Homo sapiens: one gene and its partners. The protein of the gene in region 6 purifies or fractionates together with the protein of the main gene of each other region. This does not show direct contact. Each region holds a gene or a part of one and is shown on either strand. Other genes may lie near its edges.

Region 1 (3,500 bases), on a different chromosome or scaffold from region 6:
TGATAGAGTAGCAGCAGGGTTTTAGAGAACTGACTCCGATCTTGAAAGGAGCTCCACTATGGGTTAAATGCTATCAAACAGCATCGTATGCTACAGAGAAATCTTTTGTGAAAGGAAGAGTTGATCGATGTGGCAAACTTCATTGTTGTCTTATTTTACAAAACTGCCACAGCCAACCACCATCCTGATCAGTCAGCAGCCATCAACAAGGAGGCAAGACCCCCCACCAGCAAAAAGATTATGACTCACTAAAGGCTCAGATGATCATTAGCATATTTTGCCAATAAAGTATTTCTAATTAAGGTATATACACTTTTTAGGCATAATGTTAGTGTACACTTGAGACTACAATATAGTGTAAACACAACTCTTATATACACTAGGAAACCAAAAAGTTCATGATTTGCTTTATTTTGATGTCCACTGTACTGTGGTATCTGGAGCCACGTCTGCACCATCTCCCAGGTGTGCCAGTATCACCTTTTCCCTTCCTCTGAGCCCCCTGACAACACACATGTGCTTCTCAGAGAAGTACTACACCTCCTGCCTGCCTATCCTGATGGTTTTTAAATACCTTGAGGGCTAAGCCTGAATCTCACTCATCTCTGTACACCTCCAGTGCCACACATACAGTAGATAATCAAATACTGCTTGACTAATTTCACCTCAGTTCCCCTAATGAAGACTGGATAACCAAAACTCTCATTCATTTAGAGGATGTGAAATAGGCCTAAGGGTGTCATAAAACAGTTTACTGAGATGAAACAGCAAGCTGGGGATCAATCCAGGATAAAAATCCTTAAGAGTTCACTTTAGTAAATATTTATTAAGTGCCTAATATGTGCAAGGCATCATAAAACACAGCGGAGGGAAAGACATTAAAAATTACTGTAAGACAAAAGACATGATCAGCAACTCCACTTCCAGAATATCTCACTGAGAAAACTACTCCCCCATGTACACAGAGGCATGTGGAAGGACACTCACTGTGACACCGGAGGAAATAGGGAAAAAAGAAAAGGAAATCACATAAACATCCAACAGATAGAGAACTGACTGAGAAAATTTCGGCATATACATCCTATAGAATTTTATGGAACCATTAAGAAAGAACAAGGTAGAATACACATACACTGTCACGGAAAACACATGAGATATACTGCTGATTGTTTAAAAAGTCATAGAATTTTTTGCACATCTCAATTTTGCAAAAAAAAATGCAGACATACAAATATAAATGTTGCTGAATTTGAATATATGCATATACACATATCCGCAAGTGTGAACTGCATTTGGATTTCACATGCATGCACATAAGACACATATACAGATCTGCTCCAAGGAGAAATCTACAAAACTGCTTAGCAAAGTACTCAGAGGATGAGGTCCTGAAAGTGGGGACAGGAGCAGCTGGGGCAGGATTTTCACTTTTGGAACTTTTGCATCTTAATTTTTTTACCATGAACATTTCCTTAGTAACAAAAGATTGTAATAATAATAATAATAATAGAGTCCCTGTAGTATTTAAGATATATACAATCAAATAACTAGTTAATGACATATGACAAGAGAAGACCAAACATATCAATGGAAGGGAATAAGGAGGCCATAAAGAAACCTTTATCTCTATGGTCAGTTGATTTCAACAAGGGTGCCAAGATGGTTCAGTGGGGAAAGAGCGGTCTCTTCAACCAATGATGCTGGGACAACTGGATATCCCTTGCAAAATAATATAGTTGCACACCTACCTTACACCATATACAAGAATTAATACAAAACAGATCCGAGACCTAAACATTAAGAGCTAAAACTATAAAACTCTTATTAGAAAACAGAGGGCTAAATCATTATGACCTTGGCTTTGGCAATACGTTCTTAGAGATGACACCAAAAGCATGAGCAATGAAAGAAATAAATAAATAATTGGACTTTTTCAAAATTTTAAAGTTTTGAGTACCAAATGACACCATAGGGCAACTGAAAAGACAACCCACAGAATGGGAGAAAATATGTACAAATCATATACCTGATAAGGAACTTTTATCTAAAACATATAAACACCTTCCAGAATTGAATAATAAAATGAAAAATAATCCTACTTAAAAATGGGCAAAGGATCTAAATAGAAATTTTTCCAAAGAAGATATACAAATGGTCAATAAGCACAGGAAAAGATGCTCAACATCATTAGTCTCTAGAGAAACACGGGTTTAAACCACAATAAGGTACCACATCACACCCACGAGGATGGCTATAATTAAAAGGTCAACGTGTAAGGGTCAGCCATAGTGGCTCGCATCTGTAATCTTAGCATTTTGGAGGGCCGAGGCAAAAGGATCACTTGAGACCAGGAGTTTGAGACCAGCCTGGGCAACACAGTGAGGCCCTTTCTCTAAAAAACAAAAATTTTTTTTTAATTAGCCAGGTGTGGTGCCACATGCCTACAGTCCTAGCTTCTTGGGAGGCTGAGGCAAAAGGATTGCTTGAGCCCAGGAAGTCATGGTTACAGCGAGCTATGACTGTGCCACTGCACTCCAGCCTGGACAACAGGTGAGGCTCTGTTTCTAAATAAATAAATAAATTTTTAAAGTCAAATTATAATAAGTATTTGCGAGGATATGGAGAGTTACCACTTGATATGGCAATTCCACTTCTCATTGTACACCAAAGACAAATGAAAACATGTGTTCACATCAGCATTATCTGTAATAGCCAAAAAATGGAAAGGACCCAAATGTTCATCAACCAATGAATGGATAAGTAAAATGAAGTATATCTATACAATGGAGTATTATTCAGCCATAAAAGGGAATGAACTACTGACACATTATAACATGGAGAAACCTTGAAAGCACTACGCTAAGTGAAAGGAGTCAGACCCAAAAGGCCACACTGTGTGGCGTATTCCACAACAGGCAAATCTCTAGACACAAAAGTAGATTCGTGACTGCCTTGGGCTTGGGGAAATGCAGGGACCGGGGTGGGGACTGATAGCTACAGGGTAAGTAGGATTTGGTGGGGAGGGTGGGGGGTGGGGGTGATGAAAATGTTCTAAAAATGATTGTGGCAATGGTCACACATACCTGTGAATACACTAAAAACTATTAAATCACATGCCTTAAATGGATGTATTGTACAGCATGTGAATCACATCTCAATAAAGCTGTTACAAATAAAAAGGGAGAGAACACCAAAAACAAAGAGAAGCAGCCCAGACAGGAAGTCAATGAGAACAGCACAAGGAGGGATTCCAGTGGCCGGAAGCAGCCAAGAGAGGGATGGGTTCCCTAAGGCAGGCGCAGACTTAGACACAGGAGAAGCTCCATCCCATGGGCGGGACGGCAGCGATGTCTGCAGAAGGCAGAAGCTTCATAGCCTAGGGCAGGGCACCGGGGAAGAGGCACAGACAGGAAGAGACCGTGCGCCTGCCGCCATAGGTTCACTTTGGAAGGCGTGGGGTGGAAGGACTTGGATGAAGCCAGCACAGAAGGAAGCTTGGA
Region 2 (4,245 bases), on a different chromosome or scaffold from region 6:
GATCAACTCAATTCCACTGCTATTTTTAGCCCATTTTTTTAGTCTGTTGCTAAGAAACCCTATTGCCTGAAGGCAATTTACTAATAGGAACTTACATGAAGCAGGAGAAACCGGTGATCCTGAAATTCTTTCCAATTAGGCCATTCTATTTTAATCAGTCCATTCTGGTGCCACTTGATAAAATATCTCCTTTCAATCTTTATGTAGCTCTACTGTGATGTTGTTGCACTTAACAGCAAAACAATCATTTATGAAATCTTAATGTAAGGCTTCTGCAAACCAGTATACCAGAAATGGAGAACCATAGTTCTGGACTCTGATTTTTCTATTAATAGTTGTCTTCATGAAAATACCGTGTATTCCAAACAATACCTTGCAAGGTAATTTTATATTTTAAGAGATCTGGTGCAGAGCATCGGAAAAAGAGTTGATAAAGCTATTATAGATAAAAAGCTGTGAACTGAAATTACGATTTGGGAATGAGACGAGAAGAGGGCTGAGACTGCTACTGCAAAACAACCCGGGGGGCGTGCGGATCAGAGCGAGATGTGGGCTGACGCAGAAATCAGCTCAAGATACAAATACGCCAAGAAAGGCTCGAAGCCGGCGGGAACCCTGACGCTTCGCATTTCTACCAACTCAGTTTAAGAAACCCCTAACAACGCAGATGTCATCGCTTCGTTAATTGGTGCCGACGATGAGCCACAGCGACCACGCTCAAACCGTTTCGACTGCAGCCAACCTAGATGTGCCATTTCCACCTAGTCTTCTGCCATCGCTATCTCCCCTATAACCTCAAATTCGTCCAAACTAAAATCTCGCTATGTTAGTGATAAGAAGTTCAGTGATGCAGCAGCCTTCTTCAGCGGTGAGCTCTTTCCTCACACATCTTTAAAAGTCCTTCTAATCCGTTGGTTTCTCGGGCACGCGGGCAGAAAACCGTGCTAACGGCCACAGAGGTTCAAGAGGTGCCAACGTGGCTATAACTGGAAAACTGGATCCGAAATCGACCAGTAAACTGGGTAGCTCGGTCTACGCCCCGCCCACCACCCTTGCTAGCCAATAGCCTTCACAACTCTTCTGCCACTCCCGCCCATTCCAGTGCTGTGCCGCTGCTTTTTCTTCCACTCGGATCTCTTGAGCGCCCTTAGCCCGCTGTATACGCGCCCCTCCTCGGCTTCAGTAGGCAAGAGGGCCATCTGCCCTTCTTTCCTGAAGGTAGAGGGGACAACACCAGCTACGACGGGGACTCCAGAAGTCCATCTCCCGAACAGCAGCGGGGCGAAAAGAAAGAAAAAGGGTTTCCGAAGACTCCTACTCACACCCACGCTTTCCCTTAACCCGGAAGTGATTTCCGCCCCTCCTCTCCCTCTTCGGTTGATACTGGAGGAGAAGGACGGCCAGGTCTGGCCCGGCATGCCCTGGGCTTCCGGTGACCTCTGGCCCTTTTCTGTCGTCCGCTCTCTCTGCCTAGCGTGCTCGCTCGCTCATTGCTTTCCTTCCCTCCCTCGGTCTTCCTTCGCACGCTGTTTGGTGATTGTGGCGCTCGCGACAGACAGGGAGGCGGTGGCAGAGGACACTTGTCATGGCCGCCTCTAAACCTGTGGAGGCAGCGGTGGTCGCAGCCGCTGTACCGAGCTCCGGGAGTGGGGTGGGCGGCGGCGGGACTGCGGGCCCGGGCACGGGGGGGCTGCCGCGATGGCAGCTGGCTCTGGCGGTCGGGGCACCCCTGCTGCTGGGCGCGGGTGCCATATACCTGTGGAGTCGGCAGCAACGGCGCCGGGAGGCCAGAGGCCGGGGCGACGCCAGCGGCCTGAAGCGCAACAGCGAACGGAAGACCCCGGAGGGCAGGGCCAGTCCGGCCCCGGGCAGCGGACACCCTGAAGGTCCCGGTGCTCACTTGGACATGGTGAGAAGCAGCCCCAGGCCGTAGAGGAGGAAACTGGCTCGTGCAGCTTTTCCTTGGCGGGTTGTGTCAGTGAGGGGGCTTCCCATCAGACGGAAGCTGCCAAGCGGCAGCACAACACTTGGGTTTAGGGAGACTCATTTCTGGCTGCCAGTGGAGGGCATAGAGTAGCTCGATGACAGGTTACTGGCATTCTTTGACAGTTTGCTTTTGGTTTCAGAAAAATCCTTTGCTTTTCTTCTCAGTGACACAGCATTTATCCCTAGTGTTGTAGATGGGAGTGGGGCATTTGCAAATGTGATGATTGTATTTAATAAGTGAAGGAAGCTAAATTCGATTAACAATTGGTACATCGTGATACGAACTGTTTCTGTGATTTCCAAAGCCTACAACCTAATCGCTAAGAGCCTTTTAATAATGAGCCACTCCCCCTTTTGGAGTGTGTTTTTGCTGGGGGTAAGTGGGCAACTACAGTGACGGTTAGTTGACAAAAGCAAAACAAAAACAAAAACGATTAGATGGCTTTCTACATAGAAAAAGAAAGACTACACAGGTTCTAAAGAGTGAAATGGTGTTCAGTGGCATTTGTTTTACAGCCTCTGAACTGTAAGCAGAACTGTCAAGCTCCCAAGGCTCGTCCTCTCTCAGCAACCCCGAAGCCCCCTTGGCTGCAAGCACTCAGCGCCCGTAACCTCTCCTGCCATGCCCCAGCCCCAAGGTGTCCTTTTGCACTCCGGACCCCTTGGCCTTTGTCAGAAAACGCTCTGCACTGCACTGTCCCCTCTTGCTGCACAAGAGTAGCGGCCACAGCAATGCTCACCAGGCTTGGTTGCACACAGCCCCCTGCCCCAGGTCCAGGCCTACACACACATACAAAAAAAAAAAAAAAAAAAATGGGAGTGACTTCTTAAACTTTTTGATTGGAAGCATCTTAAATTCAGTTTTTCCATTTCACCTGGAAATGTACATGACCAAGCCTAATATGCATGATACAGTTTCTCTGATGTGAGGCCAAGCATTGGATTATTTAGTGAACTGCTTTGTATGGTTTTGGTGAACTGACTGTTAAATCCTTTTGGTATCTGACAGCTGTGCAGAGAATTAGTCTGGCTGCATTTGACAATACTGGGATTGGGTGTGGTGGATTTTCTCTGGGTCTGGAGTTGTTCAATGGTAGTACCAGAGTAAGTCGAGGTCAGAGAAACGTTTGGTCAAATATCTCCCAGTTTTATACATAAGTATATACAGTTGGTCAAGTAACTTCTAATTGTATCCAAGTGTATACACTTAAATATGTATGCAAGTCATTTCCATATTATACTATTCAGGTTGAATTTTTTTTTTTTTTTTGAGATGGAGTCTCACTTTGTTGCCCAGGCTGGAGTGCAGTGGTGCGATCTCAGCTCACCACCACCTCCGCCTCCTGGGTTCAAGCAGTTCTGCCTCAGCCTCCGGAATAGCTGGGACTACAGGCGCGCGCCACCATGCCCCGCTAATTTTTGTATTTTTAGTAGAGACGGGGTTTCACTGTGTTGGCCAGGCTGGTCTTGAACTCCTGACCTCAGGTGATCTGCCCATCTTGGCCTCCCAAAGTGCTGGGATTACAGGCGTGAGCCACCGCGCCCGGGCGAAGATATTTTTACTAGGATGTCAAATTAGCTTTAAAGGAAGTTTTGGTGTAGGAATGAACAAACTAGTATCTGCAGTGTGTGAGGCATTGTGCTAGGCCATGAGAAAGCCATATGATCTTTCCTATGGGAGAGTGAAGCATTACCTATTTTCTAAAAGGTTTATGACTGGATAGTAGAAGAACTTATGGACTGTGTTAGAACTAGGATTTGTAAGCTTTATAGTGGGCTCTCCAGCATTGTCACTTTGGGAAAGTCATTTTGTCTCCTTGACCTTAGCGTCATCCCTGTAGAATAAGAGGATTAAAATATTAGATCTCTTCTGTTTCTTTCAGTACTAAAAATTGATGATTCTCATTATGATCATTTATAATAGCTCACTGCTGCTATTAAAAGTAGTTATCAAGAGGATTATTTGAATTAATTATCACTTGTCTTACATCAATTTTGGATGTCTGAAATTCTCCAGTCATTTTCTATTTCGTTTGTTAATTTAGTTTTAATCATGGAAGAATAGTAGGTAAAATAAAAGATCCAAAAAGTTCTCAGTTCTGTAAACATTAAAAATAAAGATAGTTTCTATACATGAAACTAAATTTTTTTTTTTTTTTTTTTTTGAGACAGCGTCTAACCCTGTCACCCAGGCTGGAGTGCAGTGGCACGATCTTGGCTCACTGCAACCTCTGCCTCCTGAGTTCAAGCAGTTCTCCT
Region 3 (3,500 bases), on a different chromosome or scaffold from region 6:
GCAATGAGCTCAAGAACTACAAAAAGCAATTCATGCACTCAAAAGATTTAAAGATCCATAGATTTCCATTTAATGCCACAACAAACAGCTCAGGGACAGGATCAAGCCTCTGCTCCCTAAAAACCTGAAAGAACTATACTGTCTCTTTAAAGGTGCACAAATGAATACCTTTGTGCCAATCACTAGGGTTTATATAAACAAACAAAAAAGGATAACTTCAATTATTCACTTAATGGGGCTGTATCAGTGTTAGCCAGTAAGAGCCATTATGATGGAGATATGAACAGGATTCCCACCTATCTTCTTTTTTGTTGTTTTTTTTGAGATGGTCTCACTCTGTCACCCAGGCTAGAGTTCGGTGGCACAATCTCGGCTCACTGCATCCTCCACCTCCCGGGTTCAGGCGATTCTCCTGCCTCAGTCTCCCAAGTAGCTGGGATTACAGGCGCTGTGCCACCACACCCGGCTAATTTTTGTAGTTTTGTTTTGTTTTGTTTTGTTTGAGACAGAGTTTCGCTCTTGTTGCCCAGCCTGGAGTGCAATAGCACGATCTCAGCTCACTGCAACCTCCGCCTCCCGGGTTCAAGTGATTCTCCTGCCTCAGCCTCCCGAGTAGCTGGGATTGCAGGCAGGCATCACCATGCCCTGCTAATTTTGTATTTTTAGTAGAGATGGGGTTTCACTATGTTGGTCAGGCTGGTCTTGAACTCCTGACCTCAGGTGATCCGCCTGCCTCGGCCTCCCAAAGTGCTGGGATTACAGGTGTGAGCCACTGCGCCTGGCCCCCACCTATCTTCTTATACGCAGTAATAGATCAAATTACTTAGTTCAGAGACTAATACTAATATCCAAATCTGAGTCTCATTATAATTAATTTCTCATATATTTATAGTCTCCTGGTTGTTAGAAAAGTTTAAGCCAGAAAAATGAAGCAAAGACTTACATCAAGCTAAGGCAAAGAATGCAATTTTAGTTAATGCCACTGCCCAAAAGTGCAAGCGTATATTAGTGCTTACAAAATTTAAGCTCTTAAAAGAAAAGCTGATACTAATTACCACACACACCATGATTCACATGTATAGATGAACATGCTATATGAATAAAGGGAAAATCAATTAGAGAACCAGCAATAATTCAAAACTAAAAGATAAATCTGTAGTATTTCAAATACTGTGTTGAGTTTATGTGTTTTTCCTAGCACTTCAAAATATACATTCCAGTTATAGGAAATTAACTATAGCAATCCTCAGTCCTTCAATAACTAACTGATCAAAACCAAATATAATTTATATGAACATGCATTTTAACTTTCATGAAAAATGGTTGATTTTTCTATCAAACAATTTTGGATACACCATAAATTTGATGTATAATTACAACTAAATGTTAGAGAACTGCAAACAACAACCATTAGTAACTTAGTCTTATTTCTGATTTTTTCCTCCTAAGTTCCTTGAATAAAAGAATGGATGGGGCCGAGGTGGGTGAATCATGAGGTCAGGAGTTCAAGACCAGCCTGGCCAAGATGGTGAAACCCCGTCTCTACTAAAAATACAAAGATTAGCCTGGCATGGTGGGCACCTGTAATCCCAGCTACTCAGGAGGCTGAGGCAGAGAATCACTTGAACCTGGGAGGCGGAGGTTGCAGTGAGCCAAGATCCCACCACTGCACTCCAGCCTATGCGACAGAGTGAGACTTCATCTCAAAAAAAAAAAAAAAAAAAAAAGGCTCACACCTGTAATCCCAGCACTTTGGGAGGCCAAGACAGGCAGATTACTTGAGGCCAGGAGTTCAAGACCAGCCTGGCCAACGTGGCGAAACTCCATCTCTCCTAAAAATACAAAAATTAGTTGGGCGTGGTGGAGCATGCCTGTAATCCTAGCTACTAGGGAGGCAGAGGTTGCAGTGAGCCGAGATCCTGCCACTGCACTCCAGCCTGGGTGACAGAGCAAGACTCCATCCCAAAAAAAAAAAAAAAAAAAAAAAAAAAAAAGAATGGACAGAAAGTACCTCAAATAGTACATGGACTACTGATGCTCACTGACATAAAATAATTACTACTAGCTTAATCAGTGTAAGAAGAGAGGCAAGTATTGAGGGCCAAGAAGGAAAAACTTTTTAATTTTACTTACATATATATTTATATACACACATAATATAAATTTATTTGGACCCTTTAAAGAAGCCGCAATTTTAATTATAACGAATACTCCTAGTTTAATAAAGACAATCCATAGTTTACGTATCATATTGGTAATTGAAATTAACTTTAATTAAGCATGGACTAACAGGATCCCTCGAACATAACTATGGACTAGGAGTGTTTACTTGATACAACTAATGGGCCCATCTCTTTTTTTCCATGCCTTCAGAACCTACACACAGGAAGTGGAAATCACCTAACTAAAAGAGCTCAGTCCTCAAGGCTCCCAGGAACAATAGTTCAAAATCTGAATGTGACTTCTATCTGAAGCTATTAATATTATGCAGCTATCCTGGTCATTTTGTCAATGAAATGTTTATGAAAGATCTACCTTTAATATGCCTCATTTGCTCTAAACTATCACTCTATATACCTTTCAAATAAAAGTAAAACAAGGTTTTTCACCACATAGGCATCAAACAGAGACACCATGCTTGCCTTCATGAATGTGGAAGATTCCCTGTTTCTTGGGGTTCTGGGGTCCTTGAGTCAGTCCTCTTCCAGGAGTAAGCTGCCCTTTGCCCAAGGCACAAAGCCTATAAAACAAGATAAAACACAGAGCAGATCCCACAGCTTCTTCCCTGGCAACCCTAAAGACCTACCCTCCTCCCAGAGTATCTGGCCATATCACCCTTAGTATATATTGTCTTGTAGGAGTCTGTAGCTGTTTCACAAGTATATGTATGTTTTCATGAGGCTATTCCATAAATCATCTCTCCCACTAGAGTAAACATTTCTTGAGAGCAGAGACCAATTAGGTAATTATCTACAAAATAAATAAAAGACGGCAACTAGGTTTAATGCATTTATTATTGGTCTTTCTATTTTATTAGTTTCAGAAGTCCATAATCGATTTAGTAAACAACTGAGCAAACTCATTATGAACAATTTATTCTGTTCTTTATTATCGCACCATATTTCCTCAATAAATAAGATAAACCCAATTATAAAGTAAACTTTGAAAATTGAATTAGCCCTTTCCAGATGCAAAGAAAGTATTTATTTAACTTACGCAGAAATTTTCTAGAGTCCCAACACAATAAAATAAAAGCTATCTACTGGCCACGGTGGCACAGGCCTGTAATCCCAGCACTTTGGGAGGCTGAGGCAGGTAGACAGGTTGAGCCCAGGAGTTCAAGACCAGCCTGGGCAACATGGCAAAACCCCATCTCTACAAAAAATACAAAAATTAGCCGGGCGTGGTGGCATGCACCTGTGGTCCCAGCTACTCAAGAGGCTCAGATGGGAGGATCACTTGAACCCAGGAGGTCGAGGCTGCAGTGAGCCAAGATTGTA
Region 4 (3,500 bases), on a different chromosome or scaffold from region 6:
TGTTTCTGCTTTAGTTTGATCGCTATTGTGGAAACCCACTGACCTGCAGCGTAGGTCACAGCTGCACTGCAGGGCTGTGGTCTGCGGGGTCCCCAGCTCTGGCCGTGTGTCGCCCTAGGTGCTGCAGGAGAGGGATGGCTTGCGGAGAGTGCACAGGCCGGCAGTCCTGGTGAAGATCGCTCCTGACCTCACCAGCCAGGATAAGGAGGACATTGCCAGTGTGGTCAAAGAGGTTTGAGTCGGGGCCTGGGCCCAGGGTGTGCCTCCCATGGTCTGCAGAGGCCGTTTGGCCAGCTGGGCTAGCCCAGAATGGCGTTCTTTGTGATTTCCTCTCCTTGGTATTCAAGGCTGGTTTGGTGTGTGTCATGGTGTAACTCACCCTGTGGTCAAAAGCGAATGTTGGAATAAGTGCTTGAAGGAGTTTTTCTAATGCCTCTTCCTCTCTTTTGTCAACTGCATCCAGCAAGTTTAAGGCTTGAGCTTGGCTCCTTGGCCAGTCTTGACTGGGACTGAAAATTCTTTCTCTCACTCCTCTCTCCAGCCTGTCTGGACAGCGGGTCTCTGTGGCATAGGAGAGTAGTGGAAACAGACTGAGCCCGGCCATCGTGGGTTCAAATCCTGGTTCCACCACTTACTACCTGGGGGCCTCAGACAAGACACTGTAATTGGGTTGTTGTAAGGACTGGACCCTGTCCTAGGGGAATGTTGTGGGTGGTCAGCGTGTGATGGCTGCTGTCGTCATGTTATGGCTCATTCTAAAACTTGTTGAGGAAAAGATGAGTAGTGAGGTCTGGTGTAGCTCTTGCTTTGGGGGCTGTAGGTGTGGGTACCTGGCCCGGCTGCTGCCTTCGACCTCCAGAGAAGCGCCTCTGGGTCCTTCGGTGCTATGACTCATGGCTTTTTCTCTATCTCGCACTGCAGTTGGGCATCGATGGGCTGATTGTTACGAACACCACCGTGAGTCGCCCTGCGGGCCTCCAGGGTGCCCTGCGCTCTGAAACAGGAGGGCTGAGTGGGAAGCCCCTCCGGGATTTATCAACTCAAACCATTCGGGAGATGTATGCACTCACCCAAGGCAAGGTTTCCCGTGTTTGTGTCTTCAGATCTGCGTGTGGCTTGGGCTCCTGGGTCGTGATGGGAATCATCATTCCCTAATCTGTCTTGATTGTGGGGGACTCTGGGGCTGAAGCCACATCCTTCTTTATGGTGTCGCCATGTGCTTCTCTGTAGGCCGAGTTCCCATAATTGGGGTTGGTGGTGTGAGCAGCGGGCAGGACGCGCTGGAGAAGATCCGGGCAGGGGCCTCCCTGGTGCAGCTGTACACGGCCCTCACCTTCTGGGGGCCACCCGTTGTGGGCAAAGTCAAGCGGGAACTGGAGGCCCTTCTGAAGTGAGTGAGGTCATGTGTGGCTTGAAACAGAAGTTAGGCAGAGGTTCATTTAGATCACTCAAGTCAACGAGATACTGTTGATCTGTTTCTTATTCATTCAAAAAGGAGTTGAGGGGTACACTCTGAAGGGGAGAGAAATTCTGGGTTACTCTTTTGATGAAGGACAAACAATGCCAAGGAGAACTGAGGATTAACCTCCAAGGCAATGGTGTTTCTAAGGTGGAGTTGTCCATTTGCTCAAGGGAGGGGAGCCTGAGGAATCCCATCAGCATTCCCATTAATTAAGCAACACTGGTTCAATGTTGGGAGCTGTCAATACTTAAAAGCAATTTCCTTCCTGCTCTGTTCCTACCTGGGTAGAAATATCCCTAGGTCTCTGGGTGAAGAGTGTAGAGGAAACCAGATGTGCCTGGGCCGGGATGATGCGTTTCTGGGTGAACGTGGGCTTCCTGTAAGAGCAGGGCCTGTTCTCCACTGTTTGCTGAAATTGCTTTGTTTGCTCTTTTTCCAGAGAGCAGGGCTTTGGCGGAGTCACAGATGCCATTGGAGCAGATCATCGGAGGTGAGGACAGCGTCTGACGGGAAGCCTGATCTGGAACCTTCCCAAGGACTCAGGCAAGCCTTTGTGGCTGGATCATGAGAGGAGGGACTCCATCTTGAGCCATGTCCCCCAGCCATGGCATGGCTGCACTGTAAACGCCAATCGGGGGGTCACCAGGATCAACCGCAGGCTTTCTTCAGTCCCTTGGTCAGACCATAAACTGCATTTTTGATTCTTTGTGGATTCAAACCCTAGGATCCATCAGTCTTGCAAGGACATTGAATATTAGGAGGAAAAAGTCATGGAAAAAATAAAGCCATTTAGAACCTGGGTTTCAACGCTAGCCCTTTCTGGTTTGCCATAGGCCCTGCCAAGATACTGCAGGTCCATCCAGGCCTCTGCTATCTGCATCTGCAGTGGGCTTCCCAGGAACTTGACTGTCTTTCATTTGATCTTTATTTTTGTTTATTTAATATTTTAAACTTTATTTTAAAAATATTTCAAACATAAGGGCGGGGTGTGGTGGCTCATGCCTGTAATCCCAGCACTTTGGGAGGCCGAGGCGGGCGGATCACCTGAGGCCAGGAGTTGGAGACCAGCCAGGCCACCATGGTGAAACCCTGTCTCTACCAAAAATACAAAAAATTAGCCAGATATTGTGGCAGGCACTTTTAATCCCAGCTACTCGGGAGGCTGAGGCAGGAGAATTGCTTGAACCTGGGAGGCGGAGGTTGCAGTGAGCCAAGATTGCACCAGTGCACTCCAGCTTGGGCGACAGATCAAGACTCTGTCACACACAAAACAAACAAACAAATTTTCCCGTTTCTCTCTGTCCCTTTCTCTATAACATGGATAAAATATTCACGTCTTATGTATTTATTATTGCTGAGTCATTGGTGCCTTATTCTTCAGTGTTTCAGTCTGTATCTCCTAAGCATCCTGATGTTAGTTTTTTGACTATAAAATTGACCTGCATTCTTTACTAGCAATTCAAACGGTACAGCACTCTTGAAGTGTAAACATTCCTGTTCCTCCTCACCCCACTCTGCAGACATGCCTTTCTGTCTGTCCTCCCAGACTTTTCCCCTGCATAAAGATGTTCATTTTGTACATACACTCAGACATACATGTGGCTGTATTTTTTGTATACCGATTTCTGGATGGAATGCACACTGTTATCTGTTTAGTTACTTTATGTTTTCATACAAATGACATCATCCCACAAATAGAATTCTGCCATTTACTTTCTTCACTATTCTTATGTGGCATGGTTCATGCTGGGCCTCGGTCTTTTGAGTGGGGTCTGTTTACCCAGTCCCCTGTTGGTGATCACATCGCTAACTTCCGGCGTTTTCCTATCACCATCGGTGCCTCCGTGAACACCTTGTGAATGTGCCTGTGCCTTCGTTCTGGTGTCGGTGCAGAGCAGGGTCCAAGGGGCGTGACAGCTGGGCTGAGGGGCTGGCATGTTTCACATTCTGATAGATAGAGCCAAGTTGCTCCTATCAGGTTTTCAAGCTGCCCATTTCCCACCGTGGAGACAGCAACAGAGGGGACATCCCCAGCTCC
Region 5 (3,500 bases), on a different chromosome or scaffold from region 6:
TTTACAAGGGTGCCAAGACACTCACAGGTGAAGGAACAGGCTGAAAGAAACAGTGCTATGTCAACTGGATAGTCACATGCAAAGGAGTGAAGGTGGACCCCCTATATCACACCATATTCAAAAATTAACTGAAAATTGATCAAAGACCTAAATGTGAGAGCTAAAACTATAAAACCCTTAGAAGAAAACACAGGAGTAAATCTTTGTGACTTTGGATTACACAACGATTTCTTAGCTATGTGATACCAAAAGCATGAGTAAAAAAAGAAAAAGATAAATTGGACTTCATCAAAATTAAAATGTTTTGTGCCTCATAGAATACCATTTGAAAAGACAACCCACAGACTGGGACAAGTCTTTAAAAATCATATATCTGATAAGGTATATATATAAAAATAACTCTTTCAACTCAAAAATAAAAGATAACCCAATTAAAAAATGGGCAAAGAGCTTGAATAGACATTTCTCCAAAGAAAACGTATGTATATGGCCAATAAGCCTATGAAAATTTACTCAACATCATTAGCCATTAGGGAAATGTAAATCAAAACCACAAGCAGATACCACCTCATACCCACAAAGATGGCTAAAATAAAAAAGACAGACATGGCAAGTGTTGGTAGGAATGCAGAGAAATAGGATTATCATACGTTGCTAGCAGGATTGTAAAATGGTGTGGCCACTTTGAAAAAGTGTGGTGGTTCCTCAAAATGTTGAATATAGAGTTACCATACGACCCAGCAGTTCTCCTCCTAGGTATACACTCAGAGGGAATGAAACCACACATCTATACAAAAACTCATACAAGAATACTTACAGCAGCATTAGTCACAATAGCCAAAAAGTGAAAACAACCCAAATGTTCATCAACTGATGAATGCATAAACAAAATGTGGTGTATCCTTATAACTGACTATTACTCAGCACAAAAAGGAATGAAGTACTGATAGATGCTATAACATGAATGAGCCTTGAAAACACGCTATAGGTGAAAGAAGTCAGACACAAAAGACAACACAGTACATGACTGCATTTATGCGGAATGTCCAGAATAGGCAATTTTTTTTTTTTTTTTTTGGACAGAGTCTCGCTCTGTCAACAGGCTGGAGTGCGGTGGCGCAATCTCGGCTCACTGCAACCTCCACCTCCTGGGTTCAAGCGATTCTCCTGCCTCTGCCTCCTCATAGCTGGGACTACAGGTGTGTGCCACCACGCCCAGCTAATTTTTTGTATTTTAGTAGAGACGGGGTTTCACCATGTTGGCCAGGATGGTCTCGATCTCCTGACCTCGTGATCCTCCTCCCGTCTCGGCCTCCCAATGTGCCAGGATTACCGGTGTGAGCCACCACGCCTGGCCCAGAATAGGCAATTTTATAAGGAAAGAAAATTACTGGTTGCCAGTGTTAGGAGGAAAGGGGCATGGGGAGTGACTGCTAATGGCTATGGGGTTTATTTTTCAGCTGATGGAATGTTCTGGAATTAGTCTGTACAATCTTGTGACTATACTAAAACAACTACATTATACACTTTCCATGGTGAACTTTATGGTGTGTGAACTCTGCCTTAATAAGAAAAAGCAAAGAGAGCAAAGTGCATCTAAGTGACTATACAAAATTTTTAATGTACAATTAATGCCAACAATATATGTCCTTTCAGCTTATGAACAATGCACTGGAAACATGGGCTCTTTGCGTCCCCGAACTTTCATAATTTTTAAGCATCATTAAATCACCTCAACTTGATATTGCTTGAAAAAGTCTGTGCCACCGTAAATCCGTAACCTGTTTAGACGAAGTCTGGAGCCAACACAAACATTCAGCATTTTTCCAGAGTACATTTTCCTACCACATTTAGAAAACCTGTTTATTATAAATGTAGTTATCGCTCTGAATTGGAGTAATACATGCTAATATCTAGCCTCCTGAACCCAATTTCACGCTGACCTTCTAGGCTGAATAATAAAAGCAGTAATGTAATCATCCTCAGGGCGCTTTCTGTGCATCTCGGCACCTATCTCAGTGTTCCGCATACATGTGTGCACAATTGTATATATGAGAACACTTGTGTGCACAAGCACCTGTCTCTCCACTGATCCTTAAGAGATGGAGCTCTGTCTCACAGACTTGTGCATCTCCAATGCCTGGAACGCATCGGGAAGGACCAGATCAAGGTTTATTGAATAAATTAATAAACCCAATTATGTAATTAATCCTCTACGTACATGCTCTTTCTCTCTCTTATCTGTGTCTCTCTCTCTTTAAATCACTTTCTTAAATGTTGTTTCTACAGACTTTCCCAACAGTCGTCTGGGAAAGATGGGAGGGTGTTACAACCGGAAAACGACAGGTATACCCCTAGATCATGCAGCTATTTAGTAACTAAGCTGGTACAAAAAAGCAGACTGCCCTGCAGTGTTATTTTCATTTTTTAATTTTTTAAACAGACTGTCGCCCAGGCTGGAGTACAGTGGTATGATCAGAGCTCACTGTAGCCTGGAACTCCTGGGCTCAAGCCATCCTCCCACCTCAGCCTCCTGAGTAGCTGGGACCACAGGGGCACACCACCACGCCCAGCTGATTTTTATATATATTTTTTAAGAGATGGGGTCTTGATGTGTTGCCCAGGCTGGTCTTGAACTCCTGGGCTCAAGTGATCTGCAGGCCTCAGCCTCCCAAAGTGCTGGGATTATGGGATTACAGGCATGAGTCACCACGCCCAGCCAGCTGTTTCAACTCTTAGGGGTGAATAAATCAGAAAAAAAAAAAAAAATCCAAGGTTTTAGACTCTACTTACGGTTGTCTGAAATCCAGCAGTATTACCTATCTGACAGTGATAAAATCTGACATACCTCCAGATCCAACTGTTTCACCACTGCTGTCTATGTTGATCTCCCCTGAGGGTTCGGAACGGTTAGATGTCTGCCTTTGGTAGGAAAAAGCTTTAAAAAAAAAATTACAGTCATTAAGCTAAAAATGTGTTATACTTTTAATAACATTAGCAGGGCATGTTACTCATTTAAGTTACAACATTATTACTGAAATGAATTTCAACCTCTCTCATGAAAAAAGTACAATGTTAAAGCAGGTAAATAAGGAGGTAAGAAAAACATTTTAAATATTCCACAAATTTTTAAAAGATAATCATTCAATATTTGAAAATGTATTGATCCATTACCTGATGAATTTCTCAGTAAGGTACCAGGGTGACTCTCTATTACAGAAAACGTAGGACCTAAAAACAAGAAGAAAGATAAGAAGGAAGAAGTCAGTATCATAAACTGAGTAATTATCCACGGAGGAATCAAAATCAAGATAATTAGGCTCAAAGACAAGGCAGACAGATTCTAAATTGCTGACAACTGATAACGTTCTCCTTGGGTATGCATTGAAACGGAGATTCATCCTAATACGACCAATGCCCACCAATGCAAAGCAACAGTAAAGGTAGCCACCAATGTCACCTCTCAGATATGAACATCTGAAATACTTTTAAAAGGCCTT
Region 6 (3,500 bases):
TGCCCGTCTCGGCCTCCCAAAGTGCTGGGATTACAGGCGTAAGCCATTGTGCTCGGTCCACATTTTCATATTAAGATAAATTCCAAATTCATTAAAAACCTAAATGACAAAAAGAAAACAACTATTCTGAGAATGCTAGAAATATCGGTGAACATTTGTATAATCTTTCTAGATAGAAACTTTATTCCTACCTGATTACATAAAAATAATAATTTTCAGGACAGCAGATAACACAACCAAAAAAATAAAAATTGGGGTTAATCGCAGTGTATAAAATACGCGTACAAATTACATAAATAACAATGATGCTGCTGTGGATGGTAATTTTTTAAAAAAAGACTAGTCAAGTAGAGAAAAAAGATAGAAGACATAGCCAAAGTTTTAATGTTGTACATAGCTTTTGTTCCAGCATATTTACTCATTTCTTTCAGAATAATCTTGGATGTGGGGATAGATTTATGTATGAGGGTTTATTTACTTCCTCATCCTTTACAAATGGAGTAAAATTAGAAGCAATTAATATGCCCAACACTAGGAGATTGGTATATATTACAGTATCTTATAATCATGTAGGAGAATACTATACAGTACTTAAAAAGTTGGTGTATTCATTTCTTTTTTTTTTGAGACAGAGTCTCACTCTGTTGCCCAGGCTGGAGTGCAGTAGCACAATCTCAGCTTACTGCAACCTCTGCCCCCCAGGTTCAAGTGATTCTCCTGCCTCAGCCTCCTGAGCAGCTGGGATTACAGTTGCCTGACACTGCACTGGCTAATTTCTGTATTTTTAGTAGAGACGGGTTTTCACCATGTTGGCCAGTCTGGTCTTGAACTCCTGACCTCGTGATCCACCCACCTTGGCCTCCCAAAGTGCTGGGATTACAGGCGTGAGCCACCATGCCCAGCCTATTAATTTCTTAAGGCTGCCATAACAAATTGCCACCAACTTGAGCCTCACAGTTATGGAGGCTCAAGGTCTGATATCAAGGTGTCAACAGGGCCATGCTCCCTCTAAGAATCCTTCCTTGGGGCTTCCAAGGTTCTAGAGGCTCTAGGAATGTTTTGATGCACCTTGGCTTATGGGTACATTGCTGTCATCTCTGCCTCCTTCATTACTTGGCCTTCTTCTGTGTCTGATTGCACATGGCCTTCCTATAAGGACACCATTCATTGGATTTAGGGACCACTCTAATCCAGTATGCCGTTTGGCATTTGAACTAATTGCATCTGCAAAGATCCCATTTCCAAATAGGGTCACATTCTGAGGTTGCAGGTGAGACATGAATTTTGGGGGAGACACTGTTCAACCCAGTATAGATTATATAGAAGAATATCTGAAGACAGAGAGAAATGTTTACAGTATATTACTGAGTAAAGAAGGTGGTTATAAAGCAGCAGGTCTGGTGTGATGCCTTTAAGTAAACACATCACATTTAGCTTCTAGAGGAGAGACTGAAAATACATGCATGAAAACATTACCAGTGGAGATGAGTAGGTAAAGACTTGAGTGATTTTAATTGCTCTAATGGATTCCTGTTTTTTCTCAATTTTTGACAATGAATACGTGCTTCTTTGATAAAGAGAAGAAGTAAAGAATGAGGCACCTAATTTTTTTTTCATCAAGAGTCTTCTGAGGCTGGGCATGGTGGCCCACGCCTGTAATCCAGCCCTTTGGAGGCCATGGCAGGCAGATCGCCTAAGCCCAAGAGTTCAGAACCAGCCTGGGCAACATGGTGAAATCCTGTGTCTACAAAAAATGCAAAAAAATTAACCAGGCATGGTGGCGCATGCCTATAGTCCTAGCTACTCAGGAAACTGAGGTGGGAGGATCACTTGAGCTCAGCAGTTCAAGGCTGCGGTGAGCTGAGATCATGCCATTGCACTCCAGCCTGGGTGACAGAGTGAGACCCTGTCTTTAAAAAAAAAAAAAAAAAAATTCTTCCTGAACTAGCTTTTCATTCTATAGGTATAAAAATGAATTAATATCCTTGATTACCATAACTTTTGTCTAATTGTTTAAAGTATTTTAGAGTTTACAAATTCAAAATACATTATAAAATATGTCACTTGAAGAATATTTCAAAATTGAATGCTTTCCTATTCCCTATATATAATTTCTTTTCTGGCTTTTCCAAACTACAGATAATTTGAGATGAATAGATTTGATTTTTTTTTTTTTTTTTTTTTTTTTTGAGAGGGTCTTTCTCTGCCCAGGCTGGAGTACAGTGGTATGATGACTGCTCACTGCAGCCTCAACCTCCCGGGCTCAAGTGATCCTCTTGCCTCAGCCTCCCAGGTAGCTGGGACCACAGGCATATGCCACAATGCCTGACTAGTTTTTATTTATTTTTATTTTTTTATAGAGACAGAGTCTCACCATGTTGCTAAGGCTGGTTTTGAACTCCTGGGCTCAAGCAATCCTCCTGCCTCAGCCTCCCAAAGTGCTGAGATTACAGGCATAAGCCACCGCGCCCAGCCTGAAATGTTCATTTTAAGTGTTTATTGTCCTGTATGTTTTGAAATTTTTACTGACTATATGTAACAAATTTGTCACTCCATCTAGGCACAAGTGTTTTAGGTGAGCATAAATTTTTTTTTTTGAGACAGAGTCTCGCTTTGTCACCAGGCTGGAGTGCAATGGTGCGATCTTGGCTCACTGTAACCTCTGCCTCCCAGATTCAAGCAATTCTCTTGCCTTAGCCTCCTGAGTAGCTGGGATTACAGGCGGGTGCCACCGCACCCGGCTAATTTTTGTATCTTTAGTAGAGACGGGTTTCACCATCTTGGCCAGGATGATCTCTATCTCTTGACCTTGTGATCCACCTGCCTCAGCCTCCCAAAGTGCTGGGATTACAGACGTAAGCCACCACACCCAGCCAGAGCATAAACTTTTAAAACCTTGTAGCCACTTGTCTCTAGGACACTGGGGAGATATTTGAAATGAGCAATTGCCATATTATTTGTTGTTTTCTTAGGCAAGGAATTGTTCCTCCTGGTCTTACAGAAAATGAATTGTGGAGAGCAAAGTACATCTATGATTCAGCTTTTCATCCTGACACTGGTGAGAAGATGATTTTGATAGGAAGAATGTCAGCCCAGGTTCCCATGAACATGACCATCACAGGTTGTATGATGACGTTTTACAGGTATGTTATGAATATGTAGCAACAGTGTGTTTACCATTACAGAAGCTCAAAGTATATTTTTGTATGTAAATAATTTTGTTGAAATAAGTATTATTTCATAAGTATATGAAGTGACAAACAAGGTAATTAGCTTGATTGAATCATTCCGTAATGTACTTATGAATCAAAACATCATGTTGAACTCCTTTAGTATATACAATAAAAAATAAAATTGAAGACAATAAAAAACAAAAAATGGGGTATTATTGATGTAAAAGAAAAGAAGTCATTTCACTTTTAGTTCCATTATGTTTGAATGTTGCTACTCTGGGACTCTTTTTTTTTTTAACCCTTCCCCTCTGCTAAATAGCATCTTCT
Region 7 (2,541 bases), on a different chromosome or scaffold from region 6:
GGATTGGCCTGTTATCTTCTTTAGAACTAAGTTCATCTTAAAAATTTAAGAAGGTGGACATTTCAACACCATCAAGTGCATTTAGGTGACATGTTTAAGTTAACTTGACTTCCTTGAATGACCTAGTTAGTAAACTAGTCACTAGTAATTCGGTCACCAAGCAAATCAAGCCTGCAAGAAAGGAAGCCAATATTCAAAATGCCATGTTACCATCTAAACCCATACAAATTAGTTTATTTCCAACAATAATAGGTAACTTTAATAATAAGACATCTAACTAAAGCAAGCTCCTCCAACAAGACCAAGACAGCATCTCTTCTTCTAAGGCTTAGGTTTTGCCCAGAATTCCCGATACATGGAATAGCCCATACCTAAAGAAAAAGAATGCTAGTTAAGCATTTCAGTATTTTCTTAAATATTCAAAAATAAAAACCAGTTCATAAAATAGCTGAAAGTAGCACCACTGCTAGCATGGAATATTTACAAGGGGAATAAGACCCTAGGAAGCTTATACTCTTGCCTTCTTAAACATCTTAAATCTCTAAAACTCTTGTTACATACAGTAGTTTCCCAAGTAGCAAAGGGCTGGTATGGCTACTTCACATGTTACAATATTTCTTTGAAAGAACAATCAATATTTATCTGGTAACTTTGAAAGGAATCACTCTTGCTACATAATACCAGATAAAGTCAATGAATTATAAAGCCAATAGAAGAAGCATGTAATACCTAAACTTTAAGAATCTCTCCTTTAAAAACACAATAAAATAGCAATTGTATGTCTCTCCCAGATAACAGATGTTACTATCAACCCCAATTACATGTCTAGGCTCTTCAATGAAATTATAAACTCAGTGATTGACAGGATTTTTTTTTTCTTTAAAATCTTAGTAGGATATATCATAGAAAAACTATGTCACTACTTGAATTATCTTCATTAATTCATTTTTTACATGAAAATGAGTATAAGTGATATTCTCCAACTGCTAAAAGGTCAGCTAAAAATATTTACCTATTTTGTTTGTAAAGAAATACCTTAATGAGAAACGAAAATTTGAAATTTCCTATAGGAACCTACCAACAGTCATTGCTCCTACAACAAAGCCTTGGGCTGCCACACGCATGTGGATCAGATGAATGGACATTTTAGTATTTCCCCTGCTCTTCAGTTTATATAATCCATATGCAACAATTGCTGCAAAACCCGCTATTCCTGTAAAACAAAGTAACAAGTATGTCAGATGCATGAGAAGGGACCAAGATGACTTTACCATCAGTCAATGTACATTCTATTATTTTTATGAGGATTCTTTATCAGATCATTAATTAGCTAACATACAAATTGAGTTTTTCATGTTTTCCCCTATCAAAACCAAAAATCTTTAAGCAAACAACAACAGATCCAGAAAGTCAGGATTATCTTTAAAAACATGGGTTTGTGGGGCCAGTAGATAAACTCCTTTAAAAAACTGCTAGGGAATTAACAGGAACCTAGATTATGATTATCAGAACGAAAGTGTGCCAAAGGTCTTGACTTAGAGAATGAATTTATTCCATTTCCTCTCTGTCCTATTTCCCTCCCTCAAGGTAATCAGTTAATATACCAGAGACAATCCTACACACTACTACCACTGAGAAACATTGCCTGAATATTTCAAACTTTGGGATATTGTACTGGGAAGAAGTAAATAAAGGAAAAGAATAGAGCAATATTAGTTTCAGTTAAAAGGATTATGATCCTAGAGTTCTATACAGAGCCAAACTCTCATTCATTTTGAGGGCAAAAGCATTCAGGACATGACCTTCCATGTTTTCTTTTTAAGATTTATTATTTTATTTTTTAAGAGATGGGGTCTTGCTCTGTTGCCCAGGCTGGAGTGCAGCCGCACAATCATAGCTCACTGCAGCCTTGTTCTCCCAGGCTCAGGTGATCCTCTTCGCTCAGCCTCCCTAATAACTGGGACTACAGGAGGGCTGTCTTTCCCAAGCTGCCACCCAGGTACTGATACAAAAACCTAGAGGAAAATATCCAGTCAAATAAAAACAGTGAGTCAAAATGGACAGTTCAAGAAATAAAGACATAATGGTTAAGATATAATGGTGAGCAATAAAGACAGAAAAATCTGTACTGGTTCCTTGAAAATGACTGGTATAATATAGCAAAATTAAGAATCTGAAATTAGGCTATGATTATCACAACAAAACGTGTGCTAAAGGTCTTAGGGAATAAATTTATATTCATTTTAATACAGGAAATAGATGAAAAAAACACATCCTAGTTTGACAATGTAAAGATAACCACCAGCAAGCAGTGTAAGAATAGCCGCAGAACTTCCAAATCATAAGGAGGAAAAAAAAATTAGGGCTGGGAGCAGTAGCTCACACCCATCATCCCAGCACTTTGGGAGGTTGAGGCAGGTGGATCACCTGAGATCAGGGGTTTGAGACCAGCCTGGCCAACAGCCTGGTCATCTCTACTAAAAATACAAAAAATTAGCCGGGCATGGTGGCATGCGCCTGTAATCCCAGCTACTTGGGAGG

What was found.
Region 1: the proteins of SFXN1 (region 6) and CHCHD6 purify together in Homo sapiens (affinity purification with mass spectrometry; one large-scale study listed by BioGRID and IntAct). This does not show direct contact.
Region 2: the proteins of SFXN1 (region 6) and TOMM70 fractionate together in Homo sapiens (co-fractionation; one large-scale study listed by BioGRID). This does not show direct contact.
Region 3: the proteins of SFXN1 (region 6) and ACOT9 fractionate together in Homo sapiens (co-fractionation; one large-scale study listed by BioGRID). This does not show direct contact.
Region 4: the proteins of SFXN1 (region 6) and DHODH purify together in Homo sapiens (affinity purification with mass spectrometry; one large-scale study listed by BioGRID and IntAct). This does not show direct contact.
Region 5: the proteins of SFXN1 (region 6) and NCAPD3 purify together in Homo sapiens (co-immunoprecipitation; one large-scale study listed by IntAct). This does not show direct contact.
Region 7: the proteins of SFXN1 (region 6) and HIGD1A purify together in Homo sapiens (affinity purification with mass spectrometry; one large-scale study listed by BioGRID and IntAct). This does not show direct contact.

What each region holds. Positions count from the first base shown.
Region 1 is NC_000003.12:126,721,240-126,724,739, reverse strand, and holds part of CHCHD6 (MICOS complex subunit MIC25), read right to left. Parts: intron 1-3,500. UniProt on the Homo sapiens protein: Component of the MICOS complex, a large protein complex of the mitochondrial inner membrane that plays crucial roles in the maintenance of crista junctions, inner membrane architecture, and formation of contact sites to the outer membrane.
Region 2 is NC_000003.12:100,398,290-100,402,534, reverse strand, and holds the start of TOMM70 (mitochondrial import receptor subunit TOM70), read left to right. Parts: upstream 1-1,445; 5' UTR 1,446-1,585; coding exon 1,586-1,909; intron 1,910-4,245. UniProt on the Homo sapiens protein: Acts as a receptor of the preprotein translocase complex of the outer mitochondrial membrane (TOM complex). Recognizes and mediates the translocation of mitochondrial preproteins from the cytosol into the mitochondria in a chaperone dependent manner.
Region 3 is NC_000023.11:23,733,277-23,736,776, forward strand, and holds part of ACOT9 (acyl-coenzyme A thioesterase 9, mitochondrial isoform a precursor), read right to left. Parts: intron 2,741-3,500; coding exon 2,643-2,740; intron 1,092-2,642; coding exon 1,065-1,091; intron 1-1,064. UniProt on the Homo sapiens protein: Mitochondrial acyl-CoA thioesterase. Catalyzes the hydrolysis of acyl-CoAs into free fatty acids and coenzyme A (CoA), regulating their respective intracellular levels. Regulates both mitochondrial lipid and amino acid metabolism.
Region 4 is NC_000016.10:72,022,244-72,025,743, forward strand, and holds part of DHODH (dihydroorotate dehydrogenase (quinone), mitochondrial), read left to right. Parts: intron 1-118; coding exon 119-232; intron 233-921; coding exon 922-1,075; intron 1,076-1,230; coding exon 1,231-1,390; intron 1,391-1,901; coding exon 1,902-1,956; 3' UTR 1,957-3,500. UniProt on the Homo sapiens protein: Catalyzes the conversion of dihydroorotate to orotate with quinone as electron acceptor. Required for UMP biosynthesis via de novo pathway.
Region 5 is NC_000011.10:134,199,968-134,203,467, forward strand, and holds part of NCAPD3 (condensin-2 complex subunit D3), read right to left. Parts: intron 3,232-3,500; coding exon 3,175-3,231; intron 2,939-3,174; coding exon 2,849-2,938; intron 1-2,848.
Region 6 is NC_000005.10:175,506,060-175,509,559, forward strand, and holds part of SFXN1 (sideroflexin-1), read left to right. Parts: intron 1-2,972; coding exon 2,973-3,143; intron 3,144-3,500. UniProt on the Homo sapiens protein: Amino acid transporter importing serine, an essential substrate of the mitochondrial branch of the one-carbon pathway, into mitochondria.
Region 7 is NC_000003.12:42,784,950-42,787,490, forward strand, and holds part of HIGD1A (HIG1 domain family member 1A, mitochondrial), read right to left. Parts: intron 1,214-2,541; coding exon 1,079-1,213; intron 372-1,078; coding exon 322-371; 3' UTR 1-321. UniProt on the Homo sapiens protein: Proposed subunit of cytochrome c oxidase (COX, complex IV), which is the terminal component of the mitochondrial respiratory chain that catalyzes the reduction of oxygen to water. May play a role in the assembly of respiratory supercomplexes.